Linked DNA regions of Homo sapiens: region 2 is linked to region 1. The links come from fine-mapping of genetic effects on gene expression. A gene starts in region 1. The other region holds a variant in brackets. All regions are shown on one strand. Distances are between the middles of the regions.

Evidence for each region.
Region 2: its variant is fine-mapped to the expression of ARRDC3-AS1 in whole blood (TOPMed, PIP 0.95).

What each region holds. Positions count from the first base shown.
Region 1 is chr5:91,378,828-91,381,747 of GRCh38, reverse strand. It overlaps ARRDC3-AS1 (ARRDC3 antisense RNA 1), which reads right to left and starts at 1,401. Exons shown (of 3, transcript NR_027435.1): 1 at 824-1,401. All of the region lies in intron 1 of ARRDC3 (arrestin domain containing 3), which reads left to right. RefSeq lists silencers at 670-739, 1,360-1,539.
Region 2 is chr5:91,419,411-91,422,330 of GRCh38, reverse strand. It overlaps ARRDC3-AS1 (ARRDC3 antisense RNA 1), which reads right to left. Exons shown (of 3, transcript NR_027435.1): 3 at 1,616-2,920. Among named protein-coding and RNA genes, the nearest start is that of ARRDC3, 38 kb to the right of the region's middle. The variant C/A (reference allele first, on the strand shown) is at 1,526.

The DNA.
Region 1 (2,920 bases):
TTGTGCCTCTCCTTTTTAATGCAGTATTTAGTTCAGATGTTGGCGATTTTTCAGAAAAAAAATTAGAGACATATTTTACCTTATTTTTTATATTAAAAACGTACATCCTGGAGAAGTGCTGATGACTAAGGCAAGTGAGAAATGAAGGATGCTTTGAGGGACAGTATTAATGCATTATTTTTGAAACTATTAAGGTGAACTCAGTTCTTTAGCAGGATTTTCGTAGTTAGATACAGGTACTTTGCATCCTGAAATAACTAATTAATCTCTCCAAGTGTTAACACTGATAGGAGATGCAAATGCCTAATGACAGCCTTGGTATTTGTTGAAAAGCAGATAGATGACTTTGTGTTTGTACCTTTCTGAATATTGCAGCCTTTTATGAAACGGATGAAAGAAAACAGATTTTTCCTCAAGGGGTTAAGACTTGCAGTGGGGAAAAGTAGAACAACGAGATGTGAGGACAAATATAATTTCATTAGTTGCACCATGATTTCGTGGTAAAGAAAACTAAATGCCCTGCACCCCCAACAAAATGCCCCCCAAACCCTGCAACGCGTAGACGAGCTCAGTCTGGAATAGTTTCAATGACTTGAAACTGGGAGCTCTCAAACTAGCCTGGTAACTGAGACCCCGCCCCGGGCGCCCGGGATAGGCGGAGCCAGGTTTGTTAGCCTGTTGCTAAGGCGATGGCAGGCGCTGATTGGATTGGGCGCGGGCGGGTGGGGAGAGTGAGCTCGCGCCGCGGCTGGGGCGAGGCTAGGAAACCGGCGTGCGCCGGTAAAGGTTCCTCCAGAGCGACCCCCACCCAGCCCGTACTCACGTTTGTTCCCGGGCTTCTGGGGGCGCCCAGCCCGTGTCAACATCATGTTCTGTCGCCCCTCTTTTGGGCCTCCTAAGGGCCATCGAAAGGAAACGACTTCAGGCTTTAACTGAGTAGAGGGCAGACGCTCCTGCCGGCCTTACAGGTGCTGGATGGCCATGGACCCAACTTTAGCAGAAAATCCTTTTCAGATGGAAGTTGGATGGGAAGGGTTGGCAGGACCCCCGTTAGCTATCTTCCGAGTGGGAGGTGTCAGGGGACTCCTGTGAACGCTTGTTTTCCCCTTAGCTGAAACAAAGCTTGTTCCCCGACCTCTCCAGTCGCCACACTGTCTACCTTGAGTTGACCTGAGGGGACAGAGCAAAGGCTGGCCCGAGGAAGAAGGAAAGTGATTCCAATATCGAAATGTTGGGGGAGGGGGGGGCTTCGACGGGTATCCTCTGCCCCCTCCCCCATCGTTTTCCGAAGCCTTCGGGCCCCCGCCTCCCCTTCGCCACCCCAATATCCCTTGCCGAAACTAAAGGTGTCAGAGTGGCCCGAGCCAGATGGAACCGGTCGCCGGCTGGGGCGTGTAAAGCGGAAGCGCCGCGGCTCGCTCGCCCCGCCCCCCGGCCAGCAGGCTAGGTTGCGCGGGCACGGGCGCGAGCGCCGCGCGACGTATGCCGTATGTATAGCGGGGCGCGCGGGCGGCAGCGGCGGCGGCGGCGGCGCGCGGGCAGGCCGGCTGGGATCTGCTCGCGCCGGTTTAGGCCGGTCCTCTCCTGCTCCGGTCTAGTTCTTGATTGACAGCCCGGCACTTGTTTACCACGGCGCGGCCGCCGCCGCTCGCTTCAATGAGACTGCTGAGCTGGCACAAAAAGGGAGCGAAGAGGGAAGAAAGGGAAAGGAAGGCGAACTTCGGGCGCCTTCGAGGGGAGCGAATTTAAATGGCCCCCAGCTCATCAGCTAGTTTTTGGTTCTGAAATCCGTTCAGGGGAATTTGCACAGGGGACGAGGAAAATTGTATGGAGACATAAGCGAATCACCATGATTTTTAAATGAAAGTATCGACGTATACATGCTTTTTTCCCCCTTTTTCTCGTTTAATATCAGGGAGGCATCACGTTTTTTGTGTATATCCAATACTTTGCTGAAGGAAAGTTAAATAATGTGCCAGTTTTTTCTACTCTGGGGGCTAATCGTAAAGGTTTCTACACCAAGAAAACTTTAAAAGATATTTCTGTAATTATTTAAAACGCTAAATAGGCACTTTAATGATCTAGAACCCCCTCCCATATTTTCGATTATATTTATTTTCATGCCACTTGAAAAAAAATAATTTCACCAAAAAAATTGGTTGTAAAATGAAAGGTCATCCCTTTTTTATAGAAACTGGAAACTATTAATAGTTAGACTTCATTTTTTTCAAGGATGTTGGAAAATATTGTTTCCTTATAAGCCGACACCACCTAAATGCGGTTCTTTGTAATTATCTAAGGTATAGTTTATGCAAGTTTTAGTCGTTGCTAGGACCAACTGAGTGTTGTGATCATTTTAGATCAATAAATAATTATTTTTAGTTCAATAAATAATTATTTTTAGTTATAAATCTGACATTAAAATCAATGTGTGGCTTTTTTTTTTTTTTTTTTTACTCCGTCTATTTGACAAGGTTTTCTAGTGGTTTTGGAGTATCTATTCTATTCACATCTGGTATTATTATTCCCTATAAACTGACATATTTTAAGAGGGTTGCATGAACAGTTTTTCTTTGATACATTATAGTCTTAATGTGATAAATTTAAGCAAACCGTTGGAGACAAAGGATAGCATTGTCTTACCATGATGTGAGACCCGAGCCTTTTGAGTATATATACTATTTTATAAACAGATGCTTTGCAGTTTGGGTCATTTTCCATTAGAAAAAATAAAAAGCCTGTGGGGTGTGAGTATTCATTATCCCCATTTTACAGATAAGGCAGCTGACGACAGGATTTTTATTTTGTCCAGAGGAAATGATGAAGTTAGAATTAGAACTCAGATCTCTCAGACTCCAAAGCTTGTTTTGTGGTCTTAATTGTTATGTAAGCATCTTTAAAGTTATGCCACCCTGCGGAG
Region 2 (2,920 bases), 41 kb before region 1:
GCCTATAGGAATACTTTAGGGGAATCTTTAGCCTACAGGATTGCAGGTTCTGAGATTATCAGGGAAGAGTGCTACATTGTTCAATGAATATTTGCTGAATGAATAAATGAACAACTCATTTAAAATGTAAGTCATAAGAAAGAGAGACAAAATTTAAATCTTGACTGTGCCACTTGTAAGCTGTATGACCTTCTGTAAATCACTTAACAACAGTGAGCTCAATTTTCTCATCTGTGAAAAGGGAAACAATAATAACCAGCTCGCTTGGTTGGTTTTAGGATTAATGAAATTACAGTTATAAAGTGCTTAACAGTGAATGGCACACAACAGCCTCCAGTAGATGTTAACTTTCCTCCACTTGACTTCCACAATACCCAGTGCTGTAGGTGAAACTTCCTACTGCACCTTTACCAAGCAGCTCCTCTCCCCTTCTGCCTTTCTCCCTCCTTTCCTTTGCTTCCTTCCGTTACTGACTTGTGCGTGCTCTCTCTTTATCTTTCTGTGTGTGTGTGTGTGTGTGTGTGTGTGTGTGTGTGTGTGTGTGTGTATGTGTATGTGTCTTTCTGTTAAAACCCATTGAGTGCCTGCTACCTATATGTATAATGCTTCTCTTGGACACTGAAGATACAGCAGTGAACAAAAGTGTAGTAGCACAGAACACAAGCAATCTTGTGGTTTACATTACCCTAAAAATAGAATTAAACCAAAGACCCACTTAATCTAATTAACAATGATAAAAGTGAGTCACTACAAAAGAAAAAAAAATGACTTAAAAGCAGCCATAAAGAATGAAATCTTGTCCTTTGCAGCAACATGGATGGATCTGGAGGCCATTATCCTAAGAGAATGATCTCAGAAAACAGAAAACCAAATACCACATGTTCTGACTTATAAGTGAGAGCTAAACAATGGGTACACATGGACATAAAGATGGAAAGAATAGACACTGGGGACTCCAAAAGGAAGGAGGGTAGGACGGGAGCAAGGATTGAAAAAGTTACCTATCAGGTACAATGCTCACTATTTGGATAATGGGTACGCTAGAAGCCCAATCCCCACCACTACAAAACATGCGCATATAACAGACACATGTACCCCAGAATCTAAAATAAAATAATTTATTTTTTTAAATTGTCAGTAAAAAGAAGAGAAGCAAAGAAGTTTCCACTAGTTTCTAGAGAGGTAACTAAAAAATTCCACCAATATGAACTCTTCCCTCCCTTGGCATTTTGTTTACCCCATGCTGTGCCCCACCGAGTTGCTTCCTGGATTGTGAAAAGAAGCTCTAAGGAAAGAACGAGGAAGTATACAACTTAATGCAGAGCAACAATCACAGAAGCACTTTAATCAGGAGACACAGGAAACTTTTATCTTGAAAAGCTGAAAAGAAAAAGACTAAAAAAAGTGTTAATCCAGTTTTTCTGTCATAGCTTAATATGAGCAATTGCAATCATTCTGTTAAAATAAACGGCTTTCTCACAAAACTTGAGCATTTATGTCCTTAACCTCTTAGACACTTGTCCAG[C/A]AGTAAAGCTGGGACAACACTTCCCATTGGAAAGATGGTTGCGGAAATTCATTGAGGCCATCCACTGAAAGCATCTAGAACAGCCCTGGGTACAAAGCAGACAATTTTTTTTTATTATTATTATACTTTAAGTTCTAGGGTACATGTGTACAACGTGCAGGTTTGTTACATATGTATACATGTGTACACGTGTACAACAGCACATGTTGGTGTGCTGCACCCATTAACTCATCATTTACATTAGGTGTATCTCCTAATGCTATCCCTCCCACCTTCCCCCACCCCACGACAGGCCCCGGTGTGTGATGTTCCCCACCCTGTGTCCAAGTGTTCTCATTGTTCAATTCCCACCTATGAGTGAGAGCATGTAGTGTTTGGTTTTCTGTCCTTGCGATAGTTTTCTCAGAATGATGGTTTCCGGCTTCATCCATGTCCCTACAAAAGACATGAACTCATCCTTTTTTATGGCTGTATAGTATTCCATGGTGTATATGTGCCATATTTTCTTAATCCAGTCTATCATTGATGGACATTTGGGTTGGTTCCAAGTCTTTGCTATTGCAAAGCAGACAATTAACAATGTCACTACCAGCTCCTTCCCCTCTCCCTCTTGCATTTTTAAAATAAATTCTGATATTCACACACACACACGCACCCCTAGCTCAATCTTTTACAGAATTGTGAAAAAATAAATTTAGATTTTATTGAGCACGTCTAATTTCTTTTGGGGAAAGAGTCTTCTCTTGTATTAAGAAAAAGATAGCAGATTTATGTCTATAATGCTTTCATAAATAAATCAAATGCAAGTATAAAAGAACCTACTCAAGACTGAAATTCTGTCATATAACAATAGGTAACATAACAGAAATCTGTCTTTGATTTGTCTTCTCAAGTTCTGGAAATCAACATTTTAAATAATTTTATTTATTAATAGTGTTTATTGGAAAGTGCAGAGTAATTCACTTCTTAGTCATAAAAGAGAAGCTGAAAAGTTGATATTTGGCCACCAGATGGCGCCAAACCCCTAAATATTTTTGTGCCAGGCATTCAAAGCGCTCAAAAGTTAATTTAGAGCTAAAGGTTAGGCACTTGTTTATTGACTTTTATGCTTATATGTACAGCCATCTTGGAGAATCATAAAAAATAATTTCCCACAGATCACGACTCCTTTATGTGACCCTACCACATTCTTGCTTTGCTGTTGTCATTCTAATATATCTAGTTGAAAAAGTACTTTTCACCACCAGACCCTCACCACATAAGCTTAGTGAAGAATTTATTCATTAAACATTAAACCATGAATGATAAAAAAGTGTTAAATAAAATTTCTCCCAGCTCTCAAGTTTTAGTTATTTTAAATCCAAAACAACCCTGTAAAAACTGATTCAAACCAGC